Linked DNA regions of Homo sapiens. The protein of the gene in region 1 interacts with the protein of each later gene in a pairwise test. Each region holds a gene or a part of one and is shown in the gene's direction. Other genes may lie near its edges. The genes, in order: UBXN2A and DYDC2.

Region 1 (8,833 bases):
TGACACCAAAAGTACAGGCAAAACAAGAATAAATTAATTTGACTGAAATTTTAAACTTCTGTATCAAAGGATACTAACCCCAAAGTGAAAAGACAATTCACAGAATCAGAGGAAAGATTTGCAAATCACATATCTGATAAGGGATTACTATCCATAATATGTATTTTTTAAAACGCAAAAACTCCTGTAACTCAACAACAACAACAACAAAAAAAACCTATTTGAAAATTCGCAAGGAGTTAAATAGGCGTTTCTCCAAAAAAAATATACGAATAGCCAATAGGCGCATGAAAAGATATTCAGCATCACTAGTCATCAGAGAAATGCAAATCAAAACCATAGTGAGATACACTTCATACTCATTAGGGCGGGATAGTTATAAACACACATACACATACACACACAGAGAAAATAACAAGTGTTGGGAAGATGTAGAGAAATTAGAACACTAGTACATCGCTGGTAGGAATGTAAGATGGTGCTGCTATTTGGAAAACAATATGACTGGTCCTTGAAAAGTTAAACACAGAAATACCCTATTCCACTTCTAGGTATATACTCAAAAAAATTGAAAACGCCAGGCACGGTGGCCCACACCTGTAATCCCAGCACTTTGGGAAGCCGAGGTGGGTGGATCACCAGAGGTCAGGAGTTCAAGACCAGCCTGGTCAACATGGCGAAACCCCATCTCTACTAAAAATACAAAAATTAGCTGGGCATGGTTGGGGGGCACCTTTAATCCCAGCCAGTCAGAAAAGCTGAGGTGAGAGAATCCCTTGAACCTGGGAGGGGGAGGTTGCAGTGAGTCAAGATTGCACCAATGCACTCCAGCCTGGGTGACAGAGGGAGGCTGTCTCAAAAATAAATAAATTAAATTAATAAATAAATATTCTTGCCACAATAAAACAAAAATTTTAAAAAATTGAAAGTAAGGAGTCAATCAAATACTTGTATACCAAAGTCCATACCAGCATTATTCAAGATAGCAGAAAGGTGGAAGCAACCCAAATGGCCGTCAACATATGAATGGATAAGCAAAATGTAATATATACATACAATGGAATCTTATTCAACCATAAACGGGAATGATATACTGACACATGCTATAACATGAATGAACTTGAAAATAATTATGCTAAGTGAAATAAGCCGGACAAAAAAGAACAAATATTGTAGGAGTCCACGTATATGAGGTATCTAGAATGGGCAAATTCATAGAGACAGAAAGTAGAATAGGCTGTGCGTGGTGGCTCAGACCTGTAATCATAGCACTTTGGGAGGCCAAGGTGGGAGGATTGTTTTGAGTCCAGGAGTTTGAGACTAGCCTGGGCAACCTGGTGAAAATCCTACCTCAAAAAAAAAAAGAGAGAAAGAAAGTAGAATAGAGATTACTATGGGCTGTGGGGATGGAGAGAGACTCTGTCTCAAAGAAAAAGAAAAACATACACCTAACATCATACTCAATGGTGAGAGAGACTGAAAGCTTTTTGTCTAAAATTAGGAACAAGACAAAGAAGCCCACTCTCATCATTTTTTGAGACAGAGTCTTGCTCTGTCACCCAGGCTGGAGTGCAGTGGCGTGATCTCGGCTCACTGCAACTTCTGCCTCCTGGGTTCAAGCAATTCTCCTGCCTCAGCCTCCCGAGTAGCTGGGATTACAGGTGCCTGCCACCACGCCTGGCTAATTTTTGTATTTTTAGTACAGACGGGGTTTCACCATGTTGCCCAGGCTCGTCTCGAACTCCTGGCCTCAAGTGATTCACCTGCCTAAGCCTCCCAAAGGGCTGGGATTAAAGGCATGAGCCACCGTGCCCGGCCTCATCATTTCTTTTCTGTTTTTCTTAAGTCTAGTAATAGAGTCTCGCTATGTTGCCCCAGGTTGGTCTCAAATTCCTGGGCTCAAGCAATTCTCCTGCCTCAGCCTCCGAAAGTGCTGAGATTACAGGTGTAAGCCACCACACCCAGCCTCTTCATTTCTATTCAACATTGTACTGGAAGTTCTAGCTAGAGCAGTTAGACAATAAAAAGAAATAAAAGGCATCCACATTAGAAAGAAATAAATAAAACTATGGCCAAGTGTGGTATCTCATACCTGTAATCCCAGTGCTTTGGGAGGCCCAAGCAGGAGGATAGTTTGAGGCCAGGGGTTCGAGACCAGCCTGGGCAACACAGTGAAACTCCATCTCTACAAAAAAAATTTTTTTTTAATTGGTCGGGCATGGTGGCACACGTCTGTGGTCCTAGCTACTCAGGACACTGTGGTGGAAGGATTACTTGATCCCAGGAGTTCGATATCAACCTGGGCAATGTACGGAGACCCCATCTCTAGCAAATGATTAGAGCTAATAAGTGAATTCAGCAAAGTTGTTAGATACAAGATCAACACACAAAATCAGTGGTATTTCCAAATACTGGCAATAAAAAATCTAAAAAGGAAATAAATCAACTCCTTTTACAATAGCATCAAAAAGAATAAAATACTTTGAAATATATTTAACCAAAGAGGTACGAGACTTGTACGTGGAAAACTATAAAACACTGCTGAAAGAAATGAAAGAAGGTCTAAGTATGGTCATGTAGTGCTTAACCATGGGGGCACCTTCTGAGAAATGTGTCGTGTAAGTGAATTCGTCGTTGTGTGAACATCACAGAGTATACTTACACAAACCTGGATGGTATAGTGTACTACACATCTAGGCAATATGGCATAGCCTTGCTCCCGGGCTACAAACCTGGACAGCATGTTACTGTATTGAATACTGTAGACAATTGTAACATGATGGTATTTGTGTATCTAAACATAGAAAAGATACAGTAAAAATATGGCCTTATAATCTTATGTGACCACCATCACATATGCTGTAAGTCATGGACCGAAAGGTTGTTATGTGGCGCACGACTATAAATGCAAAAATATTCATGCTTAAGGATTTGAAGACTTTATATATAAAGTGAGTCATCGCACCAGTATTGTTAAGATATCAATACTCCGGCTGGGTGTGTTGGCTCACACCTGTAATACCGGCACTTTGGGAGGCCGAGGCGGGTGGATCATCTAAGGTCGGGAGTTCAAGACCAGCCTGACCAACATGGTGAAACCCTGTCTCTACTAAAAATACAAAAATTAGCTGGGCATGGTGGTGCATGCCTATAATCCCAGCTACTTGGGAGGCTGAGGCAGGAGAATCACTAGAACCTGGGAGGCGGAGGTTATAGTGAGCCGAGATCATGCCATTGCACTCCAGCCTGGGCAACAAGAGCAAAACTCCATCTCAAAAAAAAAATTGAAGGTATCAATACTCCTCAAATTGATCTACCAATTCAAAGCAATCCCTGTCAAAATCCCAGTGGCCCCCCCCTCCCTTTTTTTTTTTTTTTAACAGCAATGGAAAAGCTGAGCTAAAATTCATACAGAACTGCAAGCGACAAAACAATCTTGAAAAAGAGGAGCAAAGTTGGAGGACTCAAACTTCCTGATTTCTATACAGCTACTATACAGCTGTATACAGCTACTATACAGCTACAGTAATCAAAATAGTATGGTACTAGCATAAAGATAAGATACATAATCAATGGAATAGAATTGAGAGTACAGAAATAAATTTATACATCCATGGTCAATTGATTTTTGACAAGGGAAGAATCCTCTCTTCATTAAATGGTGCTGGGACCAAAAAATCGGAAGAGCTCTCACAGAATGGTCAAAGAAAAGTCTCTTTGCCTAATGGGATCAATTTAACTCCTTATTGTGCTTCAACAGACACGGTCTCATGAGCAGTGAGATTTGAACTCACCACAGGCTCCCAAAATCACTGAACAGGAGATGAGGGAGGTGGTGGTGGGGGGAACGGCATGGGCCTGTAGGTGAGGATCAATCTCAATCTGAGTCCCCGCACTAAAGACTTACAAATAAATCCCGATTTAGGCAAACCGAGACTTTATTCGGAAAGGATTATTGCAACAGGGGGGAAAAGGACTATTGCAATAAGGGTGGAGAACTATTGCAATAGGAAGAAGGACTGTTGCAATTGGGAGAATGCTGGACTATAAAATAAAAAACAAATCTGGATATACGTAAGGAGAGAGTTCAGTGGAAGAGATCCAAGAAAAGGGAAAGAAACTATTGCAACTGAGAGTGGGGATTGGGGGAGGCTACAGCAACCGGGAGAACTCTCCAACCATGAGATCTGCAGCGATCTCCTGGGTCAGGCAGAAAAGGGCTTTCCTTTTACAGAGATGAGTGAACAGGGCTAGAAAGACCCGGGTGTGGGGAAGTGGGGAGAAGACTGGAGGTGGCAGCGATGAGACTATACAGAGACTGTTTCCCTGGGGTCCGTCTATTTTCAGGCGGTGGATGAGGAGGGCTGCTCGCTGGCTGCGGCTGAGGCTCGGTCACCGTGTAGAGAGGCCCAGGGAGAGCTGCTTCACTCAAGTCCTGTCAAGTCAAGGCAGCCGGGATTTGTCCACATCGTGAGTACAGGCAGGTCAGCTAACTATTTGCGAGGCGAAGAACTGGAATTTAGAGGGTCTGGGCCTGACCTTGTCACAGCTAACGACGGGGGCATCCTTGAGTCCTGACAAAGTCACATGCGGAAGGGCGGTTGCGTGTAGTAAGTCCTTTTAGGAACACAAAGGGGCCGGGCGCGGTGGCTCACGCCTGTAATCCCAGCACATTGGGAGACCAAGGCGGGCGGATCACCTGAGGTCAGGAGTTCAAGACCAGCCTGGCCAACATGGTGAAACCCCGTCTCTACTAAAAATACAAAAATTAGCCGGGCGTGCTGGCAGGCGCCTGTAATCCCAGCTACTCCGGAGGCTGAGGCAGGAGAATCGCTCGAATCCGGGAGGCGGAGGTTGCGGTGAGCCAAGATCGCGCCATTGTATTCCAACCTGGGGGACAAGAGCGAGATTTAGTCTCAAAAAAAAAAAAAAAAAAAGGTGGGTGGGGGTTTCTTCAACTTCGTTGTCCACAGGGCTCAGGTCAAGTTCAACATTGTCAGAATGCAGGGATGTCTCTCCATGGTTTCTGAGGCTGAGGAGGTACCCAGGTAAGCACACTCTGGGTTCTCTGGTGAGCACACACCGAGCTGCCTGCATCTCCCCTACCCATGAAGGCAGCTAGCCGCCGGGCCAGTGGTGGGAAGGGGAGGCGGCCATTAGCGCCGTTCCCGCCGGGACTTGAAGCGCCCGGCCGCGGCAAGCCCCGCCCTCGGCGCGCCCCCGCGTCCGCGCGCGCTCCTCGGGTCTGCGCGGAGCCGGCGTCGGCGCGCGCTTGGGCGCCTGGCGAAGACCGAGAGAGGCTGGCGGGATCTCAGCGGCGCGGCCGCGGAACCTGAGGCGGTCTGGGGCGGCGGCGCTCCGGCTCTGAAGGGCTCCAGCCAAACGGAGCCCGCGGCCAAACGGTGCCTGCGGTGCCTGAGCTGAGTGAGGCCGAGGCCGGGAGGCCGTGCCCGGAGGTGAGCGTCCCGGGGCCGCGCCGCGTCCGGCGGGGTGAGGGCGGGGCGGGGCGGTCGCCTGCCGGCTGGGGCCGAGGGGTCGCGGCCTGTGGCTTGGCCGCCGCGGATCGTCGGTGTCGGGGGGAGTCTCGCTCCGGAGGGCCGCGTGTTTGCGACTCGGGAAGGGGCGCCGGCGGCGGAGCCCGAGCCAGGGTCCCGCCCAGCCCAGGTGAGCGGCGACCCCGAGCCCCTGACTCGCCTGCGGCTTGACTTGCGAGCTAGCTGAAGGCACAGCTCCTGGTTCTCTCGCAGGGCGTTCCGAAACTTACAGTTATGCGCAACACAATGTTTCTATTTTCAAAGGCGAACGCTGCACGATCGCAGTCCAGTGATACAAAGTATGCCTATTAGTGACTTCACCCGACTCCCACCACTCACTTTCTCTGATGTTTTGAAGGCCTGGTGTTCGCTGATTTCACGTTTCCTTAATTTCTTCTTTGTGCCTTTTTTTTTTCCTTTTCGCTGCCAGTAATAAAAGAGTTTATTACTTGTCAGCAATGATGAATGTTCGTGTGGCATCCAGCGTTGAGTTCCTATGTACGTAATTTGAGATAAGTAAAGATAGGAAACTGCTGATTTGTTTTGATGCGAATGCAGAAAATAATGTGGTAGTATGAAGTCTGGCCGGTTGCAGTTTGTTTTTAGGGGGGAAACTTTAAAAGTTCATGTTGTGTCTTCTTTCTAAATATGCTGAAAGTCGGATTTATTTAAAAGGCAATTAAATTCAGTGAATACAGAGTATCTTTTTATAACACTAATGTTAGTGCTAGGCACTGGCGGAGTCCAAAAATGTGTAAAAAATGTGTGCAGGAGGGAGTGGTTAAGCACACTAATGATATGAGGCTGACTGCAGTCCAGTGTTAATGGAAGCTCACACTTACTGAGCAGTTGTTTTCAGCTGGGCACTGTGGAGGGTACTTTACTTGCATTTTAATTTAATAATGTATAATAATTAGCATACACTTGATTTAATTTTTTTCATTCAAAAAAATTTTAGTACCTACTGTGTACTGAATGCTAAGGATACAATAGTGACAATTACAGACTCTGCCTTTAGACTCTACAGTGTCATTGGGCAAAACAGATATTAAGCAAATAATCAGGGCCCGGAGCGATGGCTCACGCCTGTAATCCCAGCACTTTGAAAGGCTGAGGTGGGCAGATCACCTGAGGTCAGCAGTTCTAGACCAGCCTGGCTAACATGGTGAAACCCCGTCTCTCTCTACTAAAAATACAGAAATTAGCTGGGCGTGATGGGGGGCGTCTGTAATCCCAGCTACTCAGAAAAACTGAGGCAGGAGAATAGCTTGAGCCGGCGAGAGGTAGAGGTTGCAGTGAGCCAAGATGGTGCCACTGCACTCCAGCCTGGGTGACAGAGCGGGACTCCATCTCAAAAAGTAAAATAAAATAAATAATCACACAAATAAATGCCAATAAGCAAAGACAGAGGCTAAAATAAAGAATGTAAGTTGTTTGTGAGAGAAGGTAACAGGGGGACTTATCCAAGCTGGGAAAGTTTTCCTAGGAAAGTAATCTTTGAGCTTAGATATTAGGGATAAATAGGAATTAGGGGAAGATGACTCCCAAAGGAGAGAAGAAAGGCTCAGGCAAAGGAAATAGATGGCGCGGAGGCTAGGGAAGATGGTCATTTCAGGAACTTCAGCAGTTGTTGTGTGGAAAGCAAAAGGGTGCTGTGATAAAGTAGGTTAGGGCCAAAGAGATGATGCAGGGCTTTTTTTTTTTTTTTTTTTTTTGTTACAGAGTCTCGCTCTGTCACCCAGGCTGGAGTGCAGCGGCACGATCTTGGCTCACTGCAATCTCTTCCGGATTCAAGCGATTCTCCTGCCTCAGCCTCCCGAGTAGCTGGGACTATAATGCGCGCCACCATGCCCGGCTAATTTTTGTATTTTTAGTAGAGATGGAGTTTCACTGTGTTGGTCAGACTGGTCTCAAAATCCTGACCTCTGGTGATCCACCCACCTCGGCCTCCCAGAGTGCTGGGATTACAGACGTGAGCCACCGTGCCCGGCTGATGCAGGGCCTTTTAAGCAATGTTAAGGATTTGGGACCAGCTTTTTCTGTTTCTTTTTCTTTTTTAAACTTTTATAGAAAACTTTTCAAACCACTCAAATGTAGGGAGAGAACAGTACAATGAACTCTCCCGTAATATTACCCAAATGACTTGGATGTTATTTTAACAGTAATAGGAAGTCGTTTAAAGGTTTACCTCCGTCAGAAAAAAAAAAAGTTTAAAGCAAGGTAAGTCTTACTACAAACAACTTTTTTTTTTTTTTGAGACGGAGTCTCGCACAGGCAGGAGTGCTGTGGTGCAATCTCCGCTCACTGCAACCTCTGCCTCCCGGGTTCAAACGATTCTCCTGCCTCAGCCTCCCGAGTAGCTGGGATTACAGGCATGCGCCACCATGCCTGGCTAGTTTTTTGTATTTTTGGTAGAGACGGGGTTTCACTGTGTTGGCCAGGCTGGTCTCGAACTCCAGACCTTCTGATCTGCCCACTTCAGCCTCCCAAAGTGCTGGAATTACAGGCGTGAGCCACCGTGCCTGGCCAACTTTTTATTTCAAAAAGTCGTCCTGACTGCTGTGTAGAAACTGGATTGGATGGGGACAAGAATGGAAATGAGGAGACCACCTAGAGTTGATGGTGGTTGGGACTAGAATTGTGGCAATGAAGGCATTGAAAATTTAAGAGTACCTAACTGATCTCTTCTCATGTTAATAATTTTATATTCACACCTATTGGAGGAATCATGGAAGGTTTTCTAAAGGAGATTGTATGTATGTATGTTTTTATTTATTTGAGATAGAGTTTTGTTCTTGCCACCCAGGTTGGAGTGCAATGACCCAATCTTGGCTCATGGCAACTTCTGCCTCCTGGGTTCAAGCAATTCTCCTGCCTCAGCCTCCCAAGTAGTTGGGATTACAGGTATGCACCACCACACCCAGCTAATTTTGTATTTTTAGTAGAGAGAGACAGGGTTTCACCATGTCGGTCAGGCTGGTCTCGAACTCCTGACCTCAGGTAATCTGCCCGTCTTGGCCTCCCAAAGTGCTGGGATTACAGGCTTAAACCACCGTGCCCAGCTAAAGGAGATTATATTTAAAATGAGCTTTGCATTTCCGTCCAGACCAGAACCCAAGATGGCTGCACTCTTGCTGAGACATGTTGGAGTGGTCATTGCCTCCGAGCGCACTTTAGCCCTCAGCTTTGTATCAGAAATGCTGTTCCTTTGGGAATCATGGCCAAAGAAGAGATGGAATGGTTCTGGAATAAGAACACAGGTTCAAACCGTCCCGTATCTCCCCACGTCACTATCTAGA
Region 2 (8,285 bases), on another chromosome or scaffold:
CTTAAAGGCGGCGTGTCCAGAGTTCGTTCCTTTTGATGTTCGGATGTGTTCAGAGTTTCTTCCTTCTGGTGGGTTGCTGGTCTCCCTTCAGAAGTGAAGCTGCAGACCTTTGCAGTGAGTGTTACAGCTCATAAAGGCAGTGCAGACCCAAACAATGAGCAGCAGCAAGATTTACTACAAAGAGCAAAAGAACAAAGCTTCCAGTGTGGAAGGGAACCCAGAGCAGGTTGCAGCTGCTGGCTCAGGCAGCCTGCTTTTATTCCCTTATCCGGCCCTACCCACATCCTGCTGATTGGTTCATTTTACAGAGAGCTGATTGCTCTGTTTTACAGAGAGCTGATTGGTCCATTTTGACAGGGTGCTGATTGGTGTGTTTACAATCCTTGAGCTAGACACAAAAGTTCTCCAAGTCCCCACTAGATTAGCTAGACACAGAGCACTGATTGGTGCATTTACAAACCTTGAGCTAGACACGGGGTGCTGATTGGTACATTTACAAACCTTGAGCTAGACACAGAATGCTGATTGGTGTATTTACAATCCCTTAGCTAGACATAAAGATTCTCCAAGTCTCCACTAGACTCAGGAGCCCAAATGGCTTCACCTAGTGGATCCCGCATCAGGGCTGCAGGCGGAGCTGCCTGCCAGTCCCACGTAGTGTGCCCGCACTCCTCAGCCCTTGGGCGGTCGATGGGACCGGGCACCGCGGAGCAGTGGGTGGCGCTCATCAGGGAGGCTCCGACAGCACAGGAGCCCACGGTGCGGGGGAGGCTCGGGCATGGCGGGCTGCATGTCCGGAGCCCCGTGGGGAGGCAGTAGAGGCCCGGCAAGAATTCGAGCAAAGTGCTGGCAGGCCGGCACTGCTGGGGGACCCAGCACACCCTCTGCAGCTGCTGGCCCAGTGCTAAGCTCCTCACTGCCTGGGGCCTGCAGTGCTGGCCGGCTGATCCGAGTGCGGGGCCCACCAAGCCCGCGCCCACCCGGAACTTGCGCTGGCCTGCGAGTGCCACACGCGGCCCCATTTCCCGCCCGCGCCTCTCCCTCCACACCTCCCTGCAAGCAGAGCCGGCTCCGGCCTTGGCCAGCCCAGAGGGGCTCCCACAGTGCAGCGGCGGGCTGAAGGGCTCCTCAAGCATGGCCAGAGTGGGCACCAAGGCCGAGGAGGTGCCAAGAGCAAGAGAGGGCTGCCAGCACGCTGTCACCTCTCACCCAGGTGATGGAATGCTGCTGGTCATCTGTCGTCAGACTAGCTTTGAGTAAGAGGGGTGTAGAAGTTTGTTTATCCAAATGCATTGGTTCAAGTGGGCCACACAGATTGGCAGGAGACACCACCCACCTCTGTCCCCACCCTCCATCACTACCCCACTCAATTTTTTTTTAATTCCCTTACAGGTCTTGGGGTCAGAAGTCCAAAATGAATCTTATAGAGCTAAAACCAAAGTGTCAGCAGGGCAGGTTCCTCAGGAGGCTCTGGGGAGAATCCATTTTCTTGTCTTTTCCAGCTTCTAGAGGATACCCTTGGCTCAAGGCCCTGAATCACATCGCTTTTTCTCCCTTGGCTCTGTCATCACCTTCCCTGTCTGACCGTACTGTGTCCCTCTTATAGTGACACCTGTGATTACATTGTTCCTACTCAGATAATCCAGGATAATCCCCCTATCTCAAGATCCTTAATTTAATCACAGTTACAAAGTCTCTTTTGCCATTTAAGGTGACATATTCATAGTTTCCAGGTATTCAGACATAGACACATTTGGGAGCCATTATTCAGCCCTAGAACAAGGACATTCTCTTACTCATATTTCCATTATTCAAAATTAAGAAATTTAACTTGGATAAATTATGTCACATAATCTACATTTCACATTCAGTTCAACCAATTTTCCCAACAATGCCCTTTATAGAATTCTTTCTTCTTCTTTTCTTTCTTTCTTTTTTTTTTTTTTTAGACAGGGTCTCGCTCTGTCACCCAGGTTGGAGTGCAGTGGTGAGATCTCAACGCATTGCAGCCACAACCTCCTGGGCTCAAGTGATCCTCCCACCTCAGCCCTGCCCCCAACCCCTCCAAGTAGCTGGGACTGCAGGTGTGTGCCATCACACCTGGCTAATTTTTGTATTTTTTGTGGAGACAGGGTTTTGCCTTGTTGCCCAGGCTGGTATCAAACCCCTGAGCTCAAGTGATCCTCCTGCCTCAGCCTCCCAAAGTGCTGGATTTATAGGCGTGCACCACCATGCCCAGCTGAATTATTTTTTCTTGTCCAGGCCCAATCTAGGATCATGTGTTACATGTAGTTATTATGGCTGTTCAATCTCCTTTGATCTATAACAGTTACTCTTTTTTTTTTCATACCCTCAACATTTTTAAGAGTACAGGGTAGTTGCTTTGGATTTATTTGATGTTTCTTCAATTACATTCAAATATTGCATTTTAGGCAGGAATCCACGGAAATGTTTTATGTACCATAAGAAGTGCATCACATCAGGAGGCAGTTGATGTCACTTTGTTCCTTTGTTGGTGATGTTTACTTTGATTACTTGGTTAAGGTTTTGTTGGCCAGGTTTTGCCACTGTAAAATTTCTGTATTTCCTTTGGAATTAATACTTAATTTGTGAGAAGAAACTTTGAGACTATGCATATATCTTATTCCTTGTCAAATGATCACCCAGGTTTAGCACTCATTGACTCATTGATGATCCTGCTTTGATTCAGTTATACTATGGTGGTGAGGAAATGGCAGTTTTTTAAAACTCCATTATTTTCCCCACATTTATTAGTTGGCATTCTACTTTAACAAAGAACTTTGCCTTCTCCCTTCTTAATCTACTTATATATTCTCATATGGACTCATGGATTCTTATTTTATTCTGTAAGTTATAATCCATTACAGTCACTATTTTAATGGTCAAACTGCCCCAGATTTGACTAGTAGGAGCCCCTTCAAGCTGGCTTCTCTGTCCCCAACGATTGTATTTTTTAGAATTTTCTTACTTTCTGGCACAACAAAATGTTCCAGGCTCGTTAGGCTTGTCCTGCCCCAGCCTTGGAATCAGCCATTTCTCCAAGGAGCCCTGATTCCTCTTAAGTGATGAAGGCTATTTACAAGCAAGGTTTATATGCTTAGCGTGCTCATTGCTACTGAAGTGTTTTGGTTTCAAGGCCCTTGCAGTGGAGAGAGCTAGGAAATATTTTTTCCTATGTCCATAAGATAGATATGTATAAGATAGATATGGATATCTGTCTACTTGTTTTTCCTTCCTTAAGCTAAAATATGAGAAGTAGGGGGACAAATTGAAAAATGCCTCCAGAAAATGTTAAGGCTAGATCTGAGCTTTTATTATTTGCTGGGCTCTTTTGGAATTAAAATGTGTCAACTTCAGGAATATGGACTCCGTCAGGAGGAGGCCAGGTCCTAGGTTGTTTCATGGCACAATCCTCCACTGAATATAACAGCAAGTAAGTGTTTGTTGGTTCTTTTGGGAAAGGTGTGATCCAGAAGCATCTCATATTTATCCTGAAATAAATCTGAATTGGTTAGAATGTGTCTATTTTTAATATCAGATTAAGTTTGTAAAATAGTGTGACTTTGTTTTGATGTTTTCCAGGCTGCCAGGATGGAAACTAACTACCTGAAGAGGTGCTTTGGAAATTGCCTGGCCCAGGCACTGGCAGAGGTGGCGAAGGTTCGGCCCAGTGACCCAATAGAATACCTGGCTCACTGGCTTTATCATTACAGGAAAACAGCAAAAGCAAAAGAAGAGGTGTGTATGTGCACTGGGACTTAGGGAGGGCCCAGCTTTCCCAGAGTAATTTGAAAGCCAAGACACAAGGCAGGATTCTGGAGCTGGCCTGGGGAATTTCTTGGTTTATTTGACTTGCTCTTAGAGCCAGATATCCCTGAAGCATGGGGATCCTGGGGGCTAACTCAGAGGAGTGGAGCTTCAACTCAGACGAGCTGTGGAGTTGAAGGGTTTGTAACTACTAGCAGGCTAAAGCTAGTTACAAGAGGAAACTCAACAGGCCCAAAGAGCCCACAGCCCATATCAGTCCCCAGTGAGGGGGCCCCGTTTATAAGGCTTCCCTGGTTGCTGACCTGATTTGACTCTGTCACCTCACCCCAGAATAGGGAAAAGAAGATCCACCTGCAGGAGGAATATGACAGTAGCCTCAAGGAAATGGAAATGACAGAAATGCTGAAACAGGAAGAGTATCAGATTCAACAGAACTGTGAAAAGTGTCACAAGGTAGGGAGAAGGACTCAGCTTTGGGTTGCCACACACATCCCAGTGATGGACTCCAGGAAAGCCACAAGTCAGCCCAGTCCCAATCCAAGGCACATTAAGGGTCCCTTTAGCTTGATTTTCAATATATGTGCAAGTATTCACATATTTGCATATAAACCAATGTTATTGACAATCTTTGTTAATGAAAAAAGGAGATGTTAAAAGACAAATTTGTCTTAGATTTTAGGAAATACTCTGGTGTTACTGGTTTTAAAAAAAATCTGTTTTTTTTTTTTTTTTTTTTTTTTTTGAGATGGAGTCTCGCTCTGTTGCCCAGGCTGGAGCACAGTGGAGCGATCTCGTCTCACTACAGCCTCTGCCTCCTGGGTTCAAGTGATTCTCCTGTCTCAGCCTCCCGAGTATCTGGGACTACAGGCACATGCCACCACGCCCGGCTAATTTTTTTTTTTTTTTTTTAGTAGAGACAGGGTTTTACCATGTTAACCAGGATGGTCTTGATCTCCTGACCTCATGATCTGCCCACCTCGGCCTCCCAAAGTGCTGGGATTACAGGCGTGAGCCACCACGCCCAGCCAAAAAATCTGATTTTTAAAAAATCTATTCACTTGGAACAAATATTTTTTCATATAAGATCCTTTGAGCCCTTTTCAAGTAGTATTCAGTATTTTTCAGAAACCAAATATGATTGTTATCAGTGCATACTTCAGATATTTAACTTAGTATTTAGTATTTGGTTTATTATATTCTATTTACTTTTCTGTGAAACTTCAGATGCCTCCTCTGTGATGTTATAATATTAGATGTAAGTTATTAAGCTGGAATAGCCGAAGACAACTCTGCATTCGTCAGTCTGACAAGCCTATCTTTTACCTCCCACAGTTTTTTTCACAATCTCCTGAAAAACGCCTTATGCTATTCTATGCTTTCTACAAAGTGGTAGATACCTGGATAGAGAGTCGTCTCAATTGCAATGTTGGGTTTGATATATGACATCTTTTTAGCTATGACTATACTCTGTGCATTAAAGTCTTTAATGCAGTCCATTACAATTCACCAGCATTTGTTAGCTTCCAAGCCAATTTGAAGACATGAAAATATTAAGCTTATTTACATTTATACTAATATACTCAATGTCCTCATAAAGAATAGATTTGCTTTTTTAAGCCTGGATGTCTTGTAAATAAATTAAATCAAAAGATAGTTTCATTCTATTGTTTGACAATAGTCTAAAGGAACTCTCCCTCAGGAAGAATTCCTTCTTTAAGCAATTGTTTGGAGATGGGAGAGGTGAGGATCATTCAGCAAAATTTGTCATCACCTTGCTGTGCACCTCTAATCCATTTCTAACACCATGCTTTACTGTTAATAGAAATAGAAATATATAAGGCAATAAGAAATATATAAAGAAGACTCCCAAAACTTCACCCTAGTTTTATGGTAGCTTTATTAAGGAAAATTTCTCGGTTCACATCAATATTTTGAATTGTCTTTTTGTGTTTCACTGAGGTTTTGCATCCTGCAGCAATATTTTTTAACAAGATTTAGATAAGTAAATGGTATGTCATTCTTTTGCCAAGTGTGTGATGTAGGCAGTTGTAAGGGAAGATGGGAAATGACAACAAGCACAATGTCTAGACTATGTGCAAGTTCTCAGTTTTAGAAAAGAGTTCATGTGTAGGTTATGATTATGGAAATTGATTCCCTATGTTAGAAGGAAATAAAGAGAACCCAAGAGTGATCTAAAATGAAGCAAATTTATAGTTTACCTGGCAAGAGAGAGCCACAACATTAAGATGTGAGTTACTCTCCAAGCAAACTTTGACAAGGCTAAATAAAGGACAAAGAGGCACAGGTGTATCAAAAAGACAAGATTCCAAGTTCTGGTTTCTGATTGATTCAAGGTGGATTACAAATTGCTCCTTGCTATTGGTCACCTTCACCTTTTGTGTGACTAGTGCTGGGAAAACCAATTTCAAACTGGCCCAGGATGGGTTGCATGAAATTTCAGCAGGGCTGCTAGTTTACCTGATGAACTGATATGCATATACTCAAAGCTTTGCAGTTTTTTCCTTGATCGCTTTAAAAAAAAACAAAAAAACATCATGACTTGGATACAGGTTAGCAAGTCTTTAAGTATCCCAGATTGAATAGTGCTTATCTAGTGGATGTATCAAAAGAGGAACAGAAACAGAATGCTATGTATGGTAGGGATCATACCCAATTATCTGAACCAAAAAGTATCCATAGAGGAGGTAGAATTTAAGTCAGGCAGAGGTTATCCTTGGTATTGATGTCTCTTCATTAAGCAGATGCAGCTTTAAGTAAACCATAATTTTGTTTCTGAGTCAGAAGAAAACTATTGTTTATAAAGATCTAAACTATACAAATGTTTTAGAAATGTATTTTTATAGAATGAATAGATATTTGCTGCATAGACTCAATAGTTTGAAGTGTAGAAGGGTCTCAGAGACCATGTGGACAAGGATGAACTCCACGGGGCTCATTGTAGAATGGACCTGTACAACTTCCAGGCAAAGATTGAAGTGGAGGGGATCAGTAGAGCCTAAGCTCCAAGGATTCCTACCTCAGCCAGGGACATGGATGTTAGACTGCTCAATATTGTCTCATAGGTCACTGAAGCTTGTTTGTTTTTTTCCTGTGTGGTTCAGTTTGGATAATTTCTACTGATAAACCTTCATGTTTACTGACCATTTCTTCTGCAATGCCCTATATCCTATCTGGGGATTCTGTGGATTTTTTCACTTCAGATATTGTACTTTTCATTTATAGAATTTCTATTTAGTTTTTTAAATATAATTCTCATTTTCTCTGCTGATACATCTTAACTCTTACATTATGTCCATTTTCTACCTTGGATTTTTGAAAATATTTATAATAGCTGTCCTTGTCTGTTAATTCCACCATCTTTGTCATTTTGGGACCTTTTTCTTTCTCTTTTTTTTTTTTTTTTTTTTTTGAGACGGAGTCTCACTTTGTCACCCAAGCTGGAGTGCAGTGGCAAGATCTTGGCTCACTGCAACCTCTGCCTCCCCGGTTCAAGTGATTCTCCTGCCTCAGCCTCCCAAGTAGCTGGGATTACAGGCGCCCGCCACCACACCCAGCTAATTTTTTTATTTTTAGTAGAGACGGGGTTTCAGCATGTTGGCCAGGCTGGTCTCAAACTCCTGACCTCATGACCCACCCACCTCGGCCTCCCAAAGTGCTGGGATTACAGGCATAAGCCACCACGCCCAGCCCATTCTGGGGCCTTTTTCTGTTGAATACTTTTCCTCTAGATTATGGTTCACATTTTCCTACTTTTTTACTTCTGGTAATTATTACTTGTGTTCTGGACATTGTAGAGGACGTTTTATAGGGAGTCTAGATTGTGTTGTTTTCCATGAAAAGATGATGGGTTTTGTTCTGGCAGGCAGTTAAATTATTGGTGAATCAACTTGATCCTATAGGTTTGGTTTTATGCTTTGTTAAAGCAGGGCTATTTCAGTTTGGTTCTTAGTCTCTGGCATGAAAATAGCAATACTGTGTTTTTGCCATACATCTTGTGTGCTTTAGTCTCTAATAATAAGTTTTCGGCTTTTTTGTTTTCTATTTAGGAACTGACTTCTGAAACTGTTTCCACGAAGAAGACCATATTCATGCAGGAGGACACAAACCCCCTTGAGAAGGAGGCCTTGAAGCAGGAATTCCTGCCAGGTACTTCCAGTCTGATTCCAGGAATGCCTCAACAGGTTCCTCCTTCAGAGTCTGCTGGCCAGATTGACCAGAACTTCAAAATGCCACAAGAAATAAATTACAAGGAGGCTTTTCAGCATGAAGTTGCTCATGAAATGCCTCCTGGCTCCAAATCTCCTTTTTAGGTTACAGAAGGTAGATGCTTCTGATTTACTTCTCTCAAAGCTAGAAGCCAAGAAAATGGCCAGCTAGAACCAAGATTTAAGGGGCTGTAAAAGGCAAGTTCAGGGACTCTCCAGCCTACTCCTTTTCTGAAAAACCCTTAATCATGTGAACATTTGAACTAGTTA

What was found.
Region 2: the proteins of UBXN2A (region 1) and DYDC2 interact in binary tests that used the Homo sapiens proteins (3 or more experiments, as listed by UniProt).

Annotation. Positions count from the first base shown.
Region 1 is NC_000002.12:23,935,193-23,944,025, forward strand, and holds the start of UBXN2A (UBX domain-containing protein 2A), read left to right. Parts: upstream 1-5,270; 5' UTR 5,271-5,456; intron 5,457-5,492; exon of another isoform or gene 5,493-5,664; intron 5,665-8,833. UniProt on the Homo sapiens protein: Acts to repress the ubiquitination and subsequent endoplasmic reticulum-associated degradation of CHRNA3 by the STUB1-VCP-UBXN2A complex in cortical neurons.
Region 2 is NC_000010.11:80,358,832-80,367,116, forward strand, and holds part of DYDC2 (DPY30 domain-containing protein 2), read left to right. Parts: intron 1-37; exon of another isoform or gene 38-68; intron 69-94; exon of another isoform or gene 95-114; intron 115-3,603; coding exon of another isoform or gene 3,604-3,612; coding exon 3,613-3,759; intron 3,760-4,119; coding exon 4,120-4,242; intron 4,243-7,856; coding exon 7,857-8,120; coding exon of another isoform or gene 8,121-8,134; 3' UTR 8,135-8,285.